2 linked regions of the Homo sapiens genome follow. The protein of the gene in region 2 purifies or fractionates together with the protein of the main gene of each other region. This does not show direct contact. Each region holds a gene or a part of one and is shown on either strand. Other genes may lie near its edges.

What was found.
Region 1: the proteins of NEFH (region 2) and TARBP1 purify together in Homo sapiens (affinity purification with mass spectrometry; 2 studies listed by BioGRID and IntAct, with this or other methods). This does not show direct contact.

What each region holds. Positions count from the first base shown.
Region 1 is NC_000001.11:234,467,607-234,477,217, forward strand, and holds part of TARBP1 (tRNA (guanosine(18)-2'-O)-methyltransferase TARBP1), read right to left. Parts: intron 5,206-9,611; coding exon 5,108-5,205; intron 3,652-5,107; coding exon 3,582-3,651; intron 45-3,581; coding exon 1-44.
Region 2 is NC_000022.11:29,476,124-29,483,217, reverse strand, and holds the start of NEFH (neurofilament heavy polypeptide), read right to left. Parts: upstream 3,001-7,094; 5' UTR 2,956-3,000; coding exon 2,073-2,955; intron 1-2,072. UniProt on the Homo sapiens protein: Neurofilaments usually contain three intermediate filament proteins: NEFL, NEFM, and NEFH which are involved in the maintenance of neuronal caliber. NEFH has an important function in mature axons that is not subserved by the two smaller NF proteins.

The sequences.
Region 1 (9,611 bases), on a different chromosome or scaffold from region 2:
TTTATAAATACACATATGCCAGGATGGGTGAAAGAGCCAACATCCTGTGGAAACAAACATCAAATGTTGACATCTGATTCTGTCTTCATTTCACCATCAAGACTACATACTCATAAATAATGTACAAACACACACAATAACTTCATTATAACACTACAAGAAGTTTTTGTTACTGTTTTTTGAGAGACAGGTTCTCACTGTGTCACCCAGACTGCAGTGCAATTGCAAAATTCTAGCTCACTGCAGCCTCAAACTCCAGGGCTCAAGCGATCCTCCTGCCTCAGCTTCCTGAGTAGTTTCCTAGCAGGACTACAGGTATGCAAACCACGCCTAGACAATTTTTAAAATATTTTTTAGAAACATGGTCTCAGAATGTTGCCTAGGTTGGTCTCAAACTCCTGAGTTCAAGTGATCCTCCATCCTCGGCCTGCCAAAGCACTGGGATTACAGGTATGAGCCACCGCACCCAGACTGTTTTTAGTCACATCTGAGTATGTCAACCAAAAAAATTTTGGTATTCAGTATTCCGTATTCAGGCAGCTTAATTTTGAAAGACTGTAAATGGGCCAGGCATGGTGGCTCATGCCTGTAATCCAAGCACTTTGGGAGGCCGAGGCAGATGGATCACATGAGGCCAGGAGTTTGAGACCAGCCTGGCCAACATGGCAAAACTCCATCTCTACTAAAAAACACAGAAATCAGCCAGGCATGGTGGTGTATGCCTGTAATCCCAGCTACTGGTGGGGGAGGGACTGAGACACGAGAATCGCTTGAACCCTTGAACTTGGGAGGCGGAGGTTAGAGTGAGCCCAGGCCCCGCCACTGCACTCCAGCTTGGGCAACAGAGTGAGACTCTGTCTTGAAAAAATAAGAAAGACTGTAAACGAATGCTGTAACTGCTACAGTGTACAAAAATTAAATATTACCCCATGCATGCAGGTTGGAACTTCAGATTTGGAATAGTTTCAACCAATTCTTCTCTTATCCCACTTCAATCCATTTTTCACACAGAAATATGAAATTGTCACGCCTCTGCTTAAAATCCTTCAACATCTCCTCATTGTTCTTAGAATAAAGTCCAAACAAGGCATGAACTGACCTTGACTGCCACTCCAACCTCATCCCCCACTCCACACACCAACTCTGCTGCAGCCCTGCTGGTCCTTCTGTTCTGCCTCCTACAGCTGCTCCCATCTCAGGGCTTGTGTCCCAGGTGGTGCCTTCTCAGCCTGGACTCTTAGCTTAGATGTCATCATAAGACAGGCCTTCCCTGACTACCCCACTCACCCTTGAGTCCATTTCATCAGCCCCTTGTCTGTTCCCCTCATATATCTTACAATCAAAACTATTTTTTCATGGAAAACACAAAAGTCAGGTGAAAAATACCACATCTCTCTCACCATTTTACCCCCAATAATTACTAGGTTGGTGCGAAAGTCGTTGCGGTTTTTGCCTTTTTTTTTTTTTTTTTAAAAAAAAAAAAAAGGCAAAAACCGCAACGACTTTCGCACCAACCTAATAGCATGTACTGGACACTAAGTAAATATTTATTCAGTAAATATATAAATGAGTGAGCAAATCAAAACCATGGAATAAATAAATATCTTAGAGATATTTTTCTAACTCTTTTGAAATATCTTTTACTTCTATTAGAGAAAAATACTCAGCATTTTTAACTCATGACATTCTATAAATAAATTAATCCATTATTTGTAATTTACACCAAGATGCTTGTTCAACTCTTTGGCAATGGTAATTTTTCAAAATCAGTCACTGCTATTTGATTTGGTTTCTCAAGAGCTGTGGGCAAAATGTGGTAATAAGAGCATCATTTTAATGGTAAATGAATAAGTGAAGTCACAACAAGATTCAATTAAATTCTAGCCCCAGGTGCAACTACAGATGCTTATGGTCTGTGAAAAATCCCAGTGTATCAGAAAACAACTACAGCAATCAGCTGAATAAAGCTCAATTCCTAAGGGGTCAAACTATTAAACTGTAATTATCTAGAGTAGGCACTAAAAACCATTTACCTAGGTTAATTCTCATGTGTAAACACAATAATGTGGCATTTTATCATTCATATGAACACAGGCCAAAACACTATTGGGCTGCATTTAGCTATTTCATTAAACTTAATTTTATAAAATACATTTAGGAAGCTCCAGCTTCATTGTGTATCTCCTAAAAAGCTCTCATAATATAGTGATCAAGGGCTTATAAACACATTTGAAATTATATCCCGGAATTTTCTCTTCCTAAGAAGTACAAGATACAGAACAATAACTGAAAACTTAAGAAACACTGGAAAAGATATACTAAGAGAATAAGAATGGAAACCAGTTAAAAAGATATATTCATACCAAAGAGTGATTATTGGCCAGGCACGGTGGCTCACACCTGTAATCCCAGCACTTTGGGAGGCTGAGGCAGGTGGATCACCTGAGGTTAGGAGTTTGAGACCAGCCTGGCCAACGTGGCAAAACCCCGTCTCTACTAAAAATACAAAAATTAGCCAGGTGTGGTGGCGCATGCCTGTAATCTCAGCTGCTTGGGAGGCCGAGGCAAAAAAATTGCCTGAACCCGGGAAGCAGAGGTTGCAGTGAGCCGAGATCATCCCACTGCACTCCAGCCTGGGCAACAGATTGCAAGACTCCACATCTCAAAAACAAAAAAAAAGAGCAATTATTAAAACCACAGACTATGTCATCATTGAAACCCTATCGACGAGTCCTTATCTTTTAAAGAAATGTGCTGAAATATTCACAGATAAAATGATAGGATATCTAGGGATGTGCTTCAAAACCATTTAGCAAGAAGGGAACAGGGAAGGCTACATAGGATACACTAAGCAAGGCTGGCCGTGAGACGATCGTTATTAAAGAGGGTGGTAGGTGCGTCACACACACTCTTCTCATTCTATAAATGTTTGAAATTCTCCATCATCAACGGTTTAAAAAATTAACCTTATCTCTTAATTGTAGAAAATTCTGTGGCTATTTTAAATTGTGTTCTTTTTTTTTTTTTTGAGACGGAGTCTTGCTCTGTCACCAGCCTGGAGTGCAGCAGTGTGATCTTGGCTCACTGCAACCTCCGCCTCCTGGATTCGAGTGATTCTCTTGCCTCAGCCTCTCGAGTAGCTGGGACTACAGGCACACACCACCATGCCTGGCTAATTTTTGTATTTTTAGTAGAGACGGAGTTTCACTATGTTGGCCAGGCTGGTCTTGAACTCCTGACCTCAGGTGATCCGCCCACCTCTGCCTCCCAAAGTGCTGGGATTACAGGCATAAGCCACCACGCCTGGCCCAAAATTGTGCTCTTAAAGACGATTTAAGGATATGAGTAGATGCATATAGTTATTATGCTAAGTGAGATAAACATGAACAACATGATCCAGAAGGTGTGTATCTGGAATGGTAACAACTGTTATCTCTTGGTGGCAGCATTACAAGATGATTATATTTTCTTCTGTACACTTTTATAGTTTTTCAAAATTCTCTACAATGAACAGGAATTAGTTACAAAATCAGGGGAAAACCATAAATGTTATTAAAAAATAAAATAAAAGTAATCGTTACCATTTTCCTCTGACACCGCATATTCAAACAGATTGTTTAGCTTTGGTAAAACTGGCTTTATAACATGTATCTAAAAATAAGAGCAAAAAAATCATATGAAATGAAAATGCATCTTGAAAAATGTCAGGCAATTTTCATCTCTTTATTTCACAGTAGCTCTTCTGTTTCTACAAAACATATGTAGAAAGAGCCTGATTTATCCAGTTTTTCAAACAATAGTATGATTCAGGTATGTAAGACTGAGTATGGCAAAGCTAATGAATATAACCACATTACAGCTACATTAAAGTCTACCATTTATACAGTGATTATCATAAATCATGTCATAGAATCCTCAACTGTCCTGGCAGGCAGGTAGGACTGCCAATACTAAGATATTACAAAGAGAAAAAAGACACTGAAATGTTTTCTCTAGTCACTCAAGTTGTTCATGGCTGCACACGCTTAGAACGGCCAGTTCGGAGTTCCATGTTCTTAATACCACATAGCCAAAGTTGCTGACACGTTTGCTTGAGATTAATTTACATATCCTTCAAAATATGGATAAATTTGGGTTTCTAAATAAATAATGGGGGTTTTATGGATCTACTGATTAAAGAAAACCATAAAAGTTAATTTGAATTTAGAAATGCTTTTTCTTTACTCCTCATCCTTGCATCTATATATATTTAGCACATATAAGTAATTATTTAAGTCCACAAACAAGGTTTGGTGCACATTTGGATTGACACCTCACAATGACTCCACAGATGGCTGGCACCTCTGTGGTCCCCAACTTGCAGAATGGAAACCATGGTTCTCAAAGTGTAGTTCCCAGAACAGCAGCATACATATCACCTGGGAACTTGTAAAAAACTCAAAAGTCCTGGACGGGTGCGGTGGCTCACGCCTGTAATCCCAGCACTTTGGGAGGCCAAGGCGGGTGGATTACTTGAGGTCAGGAGTGCAAGACCAGCCTGGCCAACATGGTGGAACCCCATCTCTACTAAAAATACAAAAATTAGCCAGTGTCGTGGCTGTAGTCCCAGCTACTTGGGAGGCTGAGGCAGGAGAATCACTTGAACCCAGGAGGCGGATGTTGCAGTGAGCTGAGATCGTGCCACTGAACCCCAGCCTGGGCGAGAGAGCAAGACTCTGTCTCCAAAAAAAAAAAAAAAAAAAAAAAAAAAACTCAAAAGTCCCAGGCCCCACCCCGACCTACTGAACCAGAAAGTCTGAGGACAGGGCATGGCAATTTATACTTTATAATAAGCCATTTGGGTGATACTGATACTGATAAACGTTAAAGTTTTAGAATGGCAAGGGAAGATCAAATTTTTGAATAATTTGTCAACTGAAAGTATTCTTTAACTTCCTGAAACAACTTACACTCTAAGTTGCATTTATGCCAGACAACAAAGTATACTTGGATTCTATCATCACCAGCTATATCTGAGTTAGTCTCTTTGTATCGCTTTTAATGAATGTTTTTAAAAAAGAAAAATTGTTATCTACTGTAGGATTTGCTAAAATAGAAAAACACTTACCTGATTTCCTTCTAAAGTCTCCATAATTAAAATATAATTTTCCCAAAACTTTAGAAGCTCATCTTTTTTCCTCTCAGACCACCAAAACAGACTTGGGCCTGATATGGTTTAAAAAAGAAAATTAGTTCTTCCTTTTGCAAATTTCATAAGTTTCTCAATGACAGCAGTTCTTAAAATAATGCCACTATTACCAAATGGATTCTCTAATAATGGAGGTGCCCCTGTATCAGAGCCTGGATAGGGGGCTTGGGAATCTCAGAGGGAGATTTTTTTTTGCACTAAGATTACTGTTTTGGAGTTCTGGGTAAAAATGGCAGATTTGCACATATAAACTCTACTTTCTCTCCCTAAGAATCTCACTATAACAGTAAAGGATTTTTCAAGGGCAAAACCCCAAAAGAATGGAGAACACTGGGGGCAGACAACAGCAATAAAATACAGAATCTGAAAATCAGATGAAAACCAAGTTGACTCAAGTCATGAGAATTTTAAGTTGACAAAGGGAAAGCCAGGAAACAATTTGATTTATGCTGCAAAATCCCCCGGAACCAAAGGAAGTGGCTGCAAAAGTTACTCTGGTAAGTGGAGTGAAAAGTGAGGCTAAACCAAAGAGGATGTGTTCAGTGTTTAAGAAACAGTCACATCCCCAGGCCACTTTCCTATGTCCTGAACAGGAAAAGACTAGAACTGCTTTTCTGGAGAAGGTAAAATAGTGCGTCTCTGAATTGGGAGGCACAGGACACAGCAGACATTAGTCCTACTGACAAAGGGGATTCAGCGAACATGTGTGCACCCTGGGTGCTGCGACTCCTCTCTACCTGCCCCCTCAGGTCCTAGAATGCTGGCCAGGCCCTCACTATGCATCAGACAACTGGAAGATGTTCTCTGCAGAATCTGGCCAGCCCAGGAGGAAAGATCTGAAAATATATCAGAGATTCCTTAATGAAATGGCTTGGCCAAATCACCTTATGGTGAAGTTCAGTCAACAGCACCACTCATGGGCTTAGAGCTTTAAACCCAATTTTGATTTCTTATCCTTAAACATAAATAGGGATCTAAGAATCATCAGACAGTTGGGGAAACCTCTACACTAAAGATCAAGACCAAAACAAATGGAGTGGGAGGAGGAAATTGGAGAAAACAAAATTACACAGGTAGAAGAAAACTTTTAAAAGAGTTTTCAGCAATATCTTAAGAAGATAGTAGTATTATAAGAACAGGATATTATTAAAAAGGGGACATTCTGACCAGGCTTGGTGGCTCATGCCTGTAATCCCAACACTTTGGGAGGCTGAGGCAGGAGGATTGCTTGAGGCCAGGAGCTTGAGACCAGCCTGGTACAACATAGCAAGACCCTGTCTCTACAAGGAAATTTAAAAAATTATCAGGGCATGGTGGTGCACACCTATCGTCCCAGCTTCTCTGGAGGCTGAGATGAGAGGATCACTTGAGCCCAGTATTTTGAAGTTATAGTGAGCTATAATCACGCCACTGCACCCTAGCCTGGGCAAGAGCGAGGATTTGTCTCTAAAACACACACACACACACACACACACACACACACACACACACACAAAGGGGACATTTAAAAAAAAAAACTCAATCCAAAATCATAGAAAATCCTTAGGAGAGAAAAGATGCTTTCAAGAAAGTCCAGGAAGTTCAATATCTAAAAAAAGAACAGAAAACAGAAAGGGACGAAATAATCCACAGAATATTCTAGAAAATTTCCCAGAACTGAAGAACATGATTTCCAGATTGCACAGGAGGTCCAGCAAGTGCCCAGCACAAGGATGAAAATAGACTCCTATCAAAACTGTGAAATTTCAGAATGCTAGAGCCACTGATCCTACACACTTCCATAGAGAGAAACAGTTCCTGTATAAATAAACAGGATTCAGAATGGTTTCAGATTTCTCAACAGCAATACTGGAAGCTCTAGCTTCTGGGACAATAGATAGATACCTTTAAAATTTTGAATGGAAATATCTTCCAGGCTCGAATTCTACCCTCAGTCAAACCATCAATGAAATATGAGGACAAAATAAAGGCATTTAGATATGTATCGTTTCAGTTGCTCATTAGGACATAGAAAACCATAGGAGATCGTTATTGTCATACAAAGAGGAAAGGCTGAAAAATCTACAAAATCCTAAACTGTTGTGCGGTGGGTGGGGGGAGCATCAGAACTGAGGTCACAATGCAACCTGAATTCTAAAAGGAAGGAAGGCGCTCCAAGAATGGAAAGGCCACTTATCTGTTCTACTTCTGGCACAGGAGCAAGACATGGTCACCCAAAAAGCAGTTTTAAAAATGGCATTTTGACAAGTTTTTAAAGACCAAGGTGGGCTAGCCTCACAGCTTGCTGAGGGAGTCCACATCCATTCACCAGCTCTTTTCTTCAAGCCTGCCCCGGTGCTCTCGAGAGAGACTGTGGCCAGGGCAGGAGATCTTCAGAGGCGCAGGCACCCAGGGCAGCAGGACTAACTAGAGAGGCCCAGCCATGCCCTGCAGGAGTACAAGATGGTGATCAACTGCCAAAACGTGCCTGTCCCCCTGGACCCTTCTCCGACAGGAAGCCAAAGCTGTCTGCCCCTCCCACACTCTCACCCTTGTCCCTGCCTTGATACAAGCAAAAGTTGCCTGCCTCTAGGGCAGGGATAGAACCTGCTCCCTTCACTCGGCACTGACACTAGGCGAATGCATCTTATTCTGTGGAAGGGGAAGCAAACCCCCTACTGCCAGATATCCTGCACTGATACAAAGCTGGTCTGCAGGTGCTGGAGGAGGGCAGGACGCTACACCCAAGACCTACCACAGACACTCACGCAGAATGCAGCTGCCACAGGTTAGGGCCAGGAACCTAAACGCACCCCTAAGTTGGAGGCAACGATTATTGCCACTGGAGAGGGAGCACAGACAGCGAAAGAGCAGGAATGCTGACGCTCAGACACATGGGGCCTAAATACAAGGCTGCAGTGGAAGAAATGAAAAGCCCCTGCCTCATCTCTTGCACCAGGGAACAAGCATCAGCAGTCTACCCCTGAGGGAGGGACGAAGCCTTGGCTGAAGACCTCCATCGGTGGCACAGGCCTCCCAGGCTGGAGAAAAACCTTTCGAGACTCCAGGCTTCAGCTAAGCAAGTAGCCACAAAATCTGGGAAAAGTTTGTAAAGTGCACTGAAAACAAATACAGCAACCAACGCCAAACCCAGCTCAACTACAAACTAGACTAACTCAATGCCACAAAGTAACGGTGCCTATCCCAGGCAGAAATATTTACTTCCATCTCTACTGTTATTATAGTAAGACATAAAAAAAAGCGACTCCATAGCCAAACACTACAACAGAAAACAAAGCCAAACTTAGATGGTCCAGGTATCGAACTTGCAGATAACTATAATTGATATGCTAAAGGATCTTGTGGAAAAGGTAAACAATATGCATAAACAGATGAGCAGATGGGGATTTTCAGGAGAGAAACTCCAAAAGCGTCAAATGGAAATGAGAGAAAAACATGATGGCAGACATAAAGGAGCATTTGATGGAATTATCAGACAAACAAGACCTTAAAAAAATCCTATTTCAGGAAACTGCTAGAGAATGCACTGCACTGACACAAGTGAGTAAAGCAAAAAAGAGGAAGATATGAACTACAGGAAATGAGACTCAACAGAACACCCAGGTGAAGGGAATCCCGGGGTAAGCGTGAGGTCTGTGCACCAGGCACAGGGAGAAACCTGCGACATCTGGGCATGTAAGGGGACTCTGGGAGAAACTTCTTCAGGAAAACCTCTGATGATCTGATTTTGTAGAGGAAAGATTTAGTCAACTGGTTAAGAATTTAAGGAGGAATTCGTGGTAAGTATAGAAAGAACCGAACACATTTTAAAACGTCAAAATCATATGAAAAACTTGCAGGAAGAGAAAAATGATCAGTTTCCTACATAGATCACCTGCAAGCAGCATTTACAGTCATAATTTTATAAATGCTGAACACACATTTAACCAAAATTTTAACTGTGACAATATATTTTATGATATAACTAAGATATACTATGTCAAGACATAGGGGTAAATCCCCTAATATTCCGTTAAGAGGCCACAGGATTTGCTTTCTGTAACAGAGGAAATGGGAGTTGCAGGAAGCATGGAAGCACCATTGCTTATCCCTAAAACTGCAAAATAACTGGCCGAGCGCGGTGGCTCACGCCTGTAATCCCAGCGCTTTGGGAGGCCAAGGCGGGCAGATCACCTGAGGTGAGGAGTTTGAGGCCAGCCTGACCAACACGGTGAAACCCCGTCTCTATTAAAAATACAAAATTAGTGGGGCATGGTGGCGCATGCCTGTAATCCCAGCTACTCTGGAGGCTGAGGCAGGAGAACCGCTTGAACCCGGGAAGTGCAGGTTGCGGTGAGCGGAGATTGTGCCATTGCATTCCAGCCTGGGCAACAAGACCGAAACTCCATAAAACAAACAAACAAACAAACAAAACTGCAAAATA
Region 2 (7,094 bases):
AAGCTCCGCCTCCTGGGTTCAAGCGATTCTCCTGCCTCAGCCTCCCGAGTAGCTGGGATTACAGGCACCTGCCACTACGCCCAGCTAATTTTTTGTATTTTTAGTAGAGATGGGGTTTTGCCACATTCGCCAGGCGGTCTTGAACTCCTGACCTCATGATTCGCCCACCTCGGCCTCCCAAAGAGCTGGAATTACAGGTGTGAGCCACCACGCCCGGCCTAATGCCCAGATTTTGAAGGTGACACATGTGGATTGACCTACTGCGTGTGCCAGACACCATCCTGTATGCTTGACTCACTCTGTCCTGTGAGATAAAGGCAAGTGACTACTCCCCAAGGCCACCCAGCTAGTGAGTGGCAGAGCTGGGACTCAAATCCCCAAAGATCATGCTCTGTCTCCCCCAGTGTGGGATCCAAAAACCCTGCAGGGCAGAGGAAACCCTGGTCCTAATGCCTGGTCCAGCTCCCTAGCAAGGGCCTGGCAGTGCTGGTGGTTCAGATGTGATACCTGGCCCATGGGGCTTAACACTGAGCTGGAGGCTGCAGGTTTGTGGCTGAACAAGTTAATGAGCTTGTGACCTTTAGGAGGCATGAGGGTACCGTGAGCAATCAGGTCACCTTGTAGCCATGGTCCCTTCCTTACAGGTTTCTGCGCACAGTCCAAGGTCAGTGCAGAGCCCGTGGCCTGGGTGCCAACCCCTGTCCCTTTCTCCACCTAGCTGAGCATTGCCCCTGAGCATTGGTAGCCACACCCCGGCCCCCGCCAGCAACCCGCTCGTGGTTCCCAGGAAACCTTCCAGAGGCAGTGGAGGTCTGGAGACTGGTCTTTAGCTCGTAAAAGTGAACATCCTGAATCCCCAGATAGTGGCACTCAGGGCACAAGTCTTGGCGGGGAGGAAGGAAGCCAGCTGAGTGGGCCAGTACAATCCTGGGACGTCTGCCCCTACGACTGGCAAACCCAAAAGAGGTTTGCGCAGGGAGGGGCCTTGCTGCGGAGATGGAGGAGGGGATGGTTCTGCTCTGCAGAGGAGTGGAAAAGGAACAGAAAAAGCTATGCATCAAAATCCCAGCTTTCCCTGCTAGTGCTGGCAAAGACTTAGAAACCATCCAGGTGGTTGGAGATTCTCAACTATTGTCGATCACAGATGCTTTTGGAAAATCACTGAAGCCTCTGCCCTCTCTCTCAAAAACAACGCAAAGTTTTACAGACAGTTTCGTGAGACATCATGGAACTCCCCGGATTAAGCAGCCCAGTTGATCTACCCTCCTCTTTCAACTCAAAAAGAAATGAAAACCAGAGAGGGCAAGTGTTGGTCAAGGTCACCCTGCAGCTGCTGGGCACAGCCTCAGGGCAGCGCAATCTAGCTGACTCAGGGCTGCAAGGAGTTGGGGGAGGGGCAGACTTGGGAGGCTCCCAGCTTCCCTAAAGGAGAAAGGGGACATTAAAACATGAAAGGGCCCACCAGCCACCTCCGCCACAGGCAACAACTGACTGTAGTAATGGTTCCCTCTAGGAAGAAAGGATGCGAAAAGGTCCTGACCCACCCCCACGTGGAAGATTTAAGGTAGGAACGTTAAGCACTGAGCAGGTAGTGGGAAGGAGCCTGGTAGGGGTGAGAGGAATAGAGTTTCTTGCGGGGTGTAGGAGAGGGCATGGCAGCATTGGCGGGGAAGCCTTGCTACTTAGAAGGGCTAAGAGTCTCCAGCGCTTGCAGACCAGAATCCTGCACCACTTTTTTCCTGTAGAGGAAACTTGTTTTTTTCTTGACGGGGGAGGGATCTCAGAGTGGGGTCGCCTAAGCTTGGGGTAGAGAGCAGCAGGGGGCCCAGAGTTGAAGTACAGCCGTAAAGAACCTGGAAAGGGGGAACCGAAGGACAACCCAGAGTTGGGGCGTCCCACAAGAGACCCAGAGTAAAACTGCGATTTAACTAGGGGCATGCACTTTGCAGAGGGAAGGTGAGCAGCGCGCCACTCCACGCGCAGTCCGGCAGCGCCCCCTTGGGTCACGCAGCCCAAAAGTTCGCTGCGGGGTCAGCAGGGGCGCCCCTCCCCCCACCCGCGCGCCTGCGTACCTCGGAACCACTCCTCGGACTGCAGCGTGCTCTGCACCGCGTGGCCTTCAAGCTGCGCGCGAATCTCGCGCAGCGCCGACGTCACGTCGCACTTCAGGGCGTCGCGCGTCTCGGCCTGCATCTGCGCCTGCGCGGCGCCGGAGCCCTGGATCTGGCCGAGCAGCTCGCCCACCTCTTCCTGGTGGTGGCGCCGCAGGTAGCCGCACTCCTCCTGCAGCGCCTGCGCCTTCTTCTGCAGGTCCACGCGCGCCGCCTCGGCCTCCTGCGCGAAGCGCGCCAGCGCGCGGGCCGCCGCCTCGGCCTCCTCTCGCTGCCGGGCCTCGTCGTCTAGGCGCTGGCGCACGTGCGCGATGTCCTCGAGCAGGTGCTCCTGCTCCAGGCGTAGCTGACCGCGCGCCGCGCCCAGGCGCAGCACCGCGCCGCGCATCTCGCGGACCTCGCGCTCGTACAGCTCGCCCATAGCGGAGCGGCCCGCCTGCTGCTGCCGCAGCGCCGCAGCCTCGCCCTCCAGGCTGCGGTTGTGCGCCTCCAGCTGCCGCACCTTGTCGATGTACCCGGCGAAGCGGTCGTTCAGCGCCTGCAGCTGCTCCTTCTCACTGCGTGAGGTGGCCACCGCCACCATGCAGCCCTCCGGCCCGTTGCTCAGCGTGTCCAGCGAGTCGGTGCTTGAGGCGGCGCCTGCGCCACGGAAGCGGCTGGGCGAGGCGGACACGGAGCTCACGGACGTCCGTGTCCACGAGTGGAAGCCGCTGGAGGAGCCAGCGGCGGAGCGCGTCCCGCCTGCGCCACCCTTTCGGGCTAGCGCGTAGTGGAGGCTGCCGCCGCCATGCAGCGGCGCGAACGGGGCGCCCAGCAGCGCGTCCGCGCCGCCGAAGCTCATCATGGCCTGAGCAGGTGCGCGAGGCCGGGACGGGGCGGGAGGCACTGCGGCAGCACCAGGGCGCCGGCCCTTTTATAGCCGCCGCGGCCGGGTCCAACCCCTTGGCAGTGAGAGGGTGGGGAGGAGGGCCCCGCCCTCTCCGCCTCCTCCCCTGCGGCCCCCCGGCCGACCGGCTCCGCCGCAGTGAGAGGGGCGGGGCAGGGGACCGAGGAGGGAAGGGGAATCGACGCTGCGTCAGAGGAGACCCTCGAGGTCGGGGAAGCGGGCAGAGGACTCCCGGAGTGGGCCAGTGAGGACCCCCGGGTGCGCGTCGGAAGAGCCTGCGAGTGTGTTCGGAATAAGAAAGGGGACTTGAAACAGGGAGAGGACAAGGAGAAACCTGATGGGAATAGGGGCAGGATGCCCTCGGGATGGAGCAATGGAAGATTGCAGTCATTAGGATGAGGGGATCCCTGTATGAGACAGGACACGAGGCTTTCCAAATAGTTAAGAGAGGCTTTCAGGATAGGGGGTGCAGAGACTGTGCAGCCAGCCCCGGAACAGAGGAGGGAGCAAGGCAGTCCTGAATGGGAGCATGGACGCTCCATAGAACGGAGACAGGAGACCCCTGACCGGGGGAGGTACAGTGTTCTCCTAACATCTAGAGGACCCACTTGGAGAGCGCTCAGGAAACTCCGCGGCCAGCCCCGGAATAGATGAAGGGGGACCTGGAGTTGGGGAGAATAGCAAGGCTACCCTGAATGGGGGTATGGGAGACACTGCAGAGGATGGAGAGAGGGAACCCCGGATGGGTGGGGTTGGGGGGAGGCAAGGCGTTCTCTAAAAAGTCTGCAGTGGCCCCCGAGAGAGGAGATGGGAGACCCTGCTGCCAGCCCCAGTAAAGGGGACGGACCCTCAGCGAAGCGGGCAGAAGGTCCCCTGAACAGGCAGGAGAAAGCTGGGCTGAGTTTGAGGGGCAGAGAACCTACAGTGGGGGTACCGTAGGAGGGCTTGGGCATGAAGTTGAGAGAGCTGGCCCCTGTGTGGGGTGGGGGGAAATGATGGGTGTCACCCGAGCCAGCTTCTGCACACTGGGGTCAGCTAGGCAGTTTGCTGGTCGAATGACCTTGGACAAGCTGTGTCCTCCCACCCTTGTTTTTCCATCTGTACAACGAAGGGGTCTTGCCCCAGAGACAAGCTCCAACTCCTGACCCCCGACTGCCCCAGGAAGTTCCACTTTGAGGGGTCTCTGGCTGAACTGGGGATGGGGAACCCACATCTTGCCGTTCTGTCAACACTAGGAAGTCCTCTTTTCTCCCTCCCCCTCCCCATCTTCTCAGCCTCAACTTGTCCTCTCTTCCCCCACTCCTGTAACAGACAAGCAGGCGCCTGAGTCGGCATCCCTTCTCTCTTACAGGGAAGTGATGAGATGCTTTCTGAGTACCAAAGTCCCTCACCCCAATAGGATGTCAGGTAGAAGAAGGGGTCCCCAGGATTTAGGGGGCCCTGCAACGGCTGTGACATTTGGCTCTTTATTGGTTTTGGCTCATGTTTTATGCTGTGGGAGTGGGGGTGGTGCTGCGGCTGGCGCTTCAGCACCGGGGACAGGGCCTGCTCTTTGTTGGGCGTGGGGCGGGGAAAGAGATTAACCCTCTGCTTTTACTTTAGGGGAAGGAAGGGAGGGACACTGTGCTGAGGGGACCCGAGAGGGGAGGCAAGTGATCCAGCAGGGTCACATAGTGAGCCAGGGACCCCTCCCTGGACTTCCTGTCGGGGGTCCAGTTCCGTGTTTTCTGGGCTGTTCCCCTCCTGCTTAGGGACCCCTGCGAAAGGACCCCTGGGGATGCTGGGAGCCCTGAGACGCCCTTGAGAGTTTGTAGACTCGTACTTCCACTCTGAACCTCCCCCAGGCAGTTATCTCAACACCCACTACACCCCTACTTTACGCGGGTTTTCCTGCTCCAGGATCCCCAGGACAGAACAGACATATCCCCCAGGAAAGACCTCTGCCAGTTCCTTTCTCTTTGCCCTCTGTCTCCTTCCAGCCCCCTAGTTCTAAGCAGACCCTCAGAGCTGGGAAATTGATGGCGCTGTCCCTTTAACCACTTTTTACTGGAAGGAGAGTGCGCTGGGAGGAGGGAAGAGGGGGAGGGAGTTTCTGGTTTTGCATGAAGCAGCAGAACATGATGAAGCATTTTTCCCCCATCTAAAGATCCAGTCGTGCTCCAGTTTGCAGAGGGCAAGGGGCTGGTTGCAGGTGGTGCTGGGAGGATGGAGGTGAGTGGCTGGTCTGAGGTCCCTGAGAAAGGCATGGGGCGGGTGTTGGGCAGGACTCCCTTGCTCTCAGATGGCTCCCCATTTATTTGTCATTCTACTTGGAATTTTGCCATTGGAGCCTTGTTCCTCTGGGTCTTTTCAGTCTGCACAATGCTGATACATTCTCTGGATGTGAGAAGGCTCACAAGCAGCTGACAGCAAGGAGGAATGGGGGTTTGGGGTAAAAAGGGGGCTCCAAGATGTATTCTGTTGAGGCCAAGGGGCCACAGCCATCAGATTGAAGCTGCCTATGTAGTCCAAGAAGCCCCAAGCATGACTCTTGTGGCTGGAGAAAATGGCATGAGGGCTGGAGCCCTGAGGTCAGTTCCCCCAAAGGACCCTTCAGGCTCACCTCCAGAAAGCCATCCCTGGCCGCCTTCACCCCCACATTTAGTTAATTGTCCCCTCCTGGTGGTTCCCATGGTTCCCAGTGCTAATCTCTAATGCTGCTCTTACCACTCTGTGGTGTGTAAATGAATCAATGAATGAATAAGTTCCGTCTGTTTTCCAGCCAAACTTGTGGTCTGGAGGGGCTGTGAATGGTTCTGCCCTGAGTCCTTGGGGCTCGAATCGCTTTCACTTTCCTCCCTGTGATTCTTACCATTTGGAAGTGAGTAGAACGATATATTCATCTATCTATCCATCCATCCATCCATCCACCCGCAGTTCTTGGAGTTATCTTCCCAAAGCCTGGACTTGGCAGTGAGCATTGTGAATCTCCCAGAGGCAAGTAGAGTGTGCTGAGTTTCCCAAACTTAACTGCTCTTGGGCCCTTCTTGTCCCCAAGTGTCTCCAGGACAAGGGTCCAGTGGCTCACACTGAAAGGCACACTGAGATTTGGGTCTCAGCCCCTGCTGTCCCTGGGCTTTTGTGGACCCCAAGGCTGGTGCTCTTCAGGAACATACTTGCAGGGTGAAGGATAAAGCAGTAGGCGCTTAAACAGCCACCAGCCTCGCTGCTACTCACTGTTCACTCGGCAGGGATCATTGTCCCTATTTTATAGGCAAGTAGACTGAGACCCGAGTGAGGAAGTGGGTTGCCTGAGTTGACTCAGTGACACAGCAGAGCCCAGTGTCTCAACTCATCCAGACCTGAGCTGGCACAGGACACAGGGTGGAAACTTGTTTCTCTTGCATAGTAGAGGCCTAGATGGTCTGAGGGTAGAGGATTGAGAGGCCTTCAGAGAGGGGATGGGCAGCTTTCTGGGGCTGGGGTTGGGGTCTGGCCTCTGACAGATCACCCATCTGTGAGTCTCTGTGGCCCATGACCCAACATCAGCATAGCCTGTATGTGAGAACCTACTTCCCGGCCTGGGTACCCTCTGACACTGTGTCACCTCTGTGGGAGCTACATGTGACCACTGTTTGAGGTGCAGATGCTAAATTCCTCGTTCTCTTTTCCTGCTTGTTTTTTCTCCATAGGACTTGACGTTTTCTGACATGCTACTATGCATCTTCTCCACTAAATAGAACTTCATCAGGACAGGGATTTTTGTTTGTTTTATTCACTGCTGACATCTCCAGTGCTCGGAATATTGTCTGGCATATAGTGGGTGCGTAGCAAATAGTTTCAGGATGACTGCGAGGCTCTGCCTGAGAGGCCCGTGATCACCCAGACATTTTAGCACTGGGCATCTGGACAGTTCCAGGCCCTAGGGAGGCTGCCCGCAGGTTGACTGGAGAAGGAGGTCTTGAAAGTGTGGCCCCCATCCTGGGGCCTGAAGCCTCCCAGCCCGAGCTGTGTAGTCCCCTTTGCTGAGGCTCAACCTTGCTGGCTTTGTTGTCTGCAGACTCACCCTGCTCCTGCACAGCCTGTTCCTTTTTATGTTCAGCAATTCCTTTTAGGAA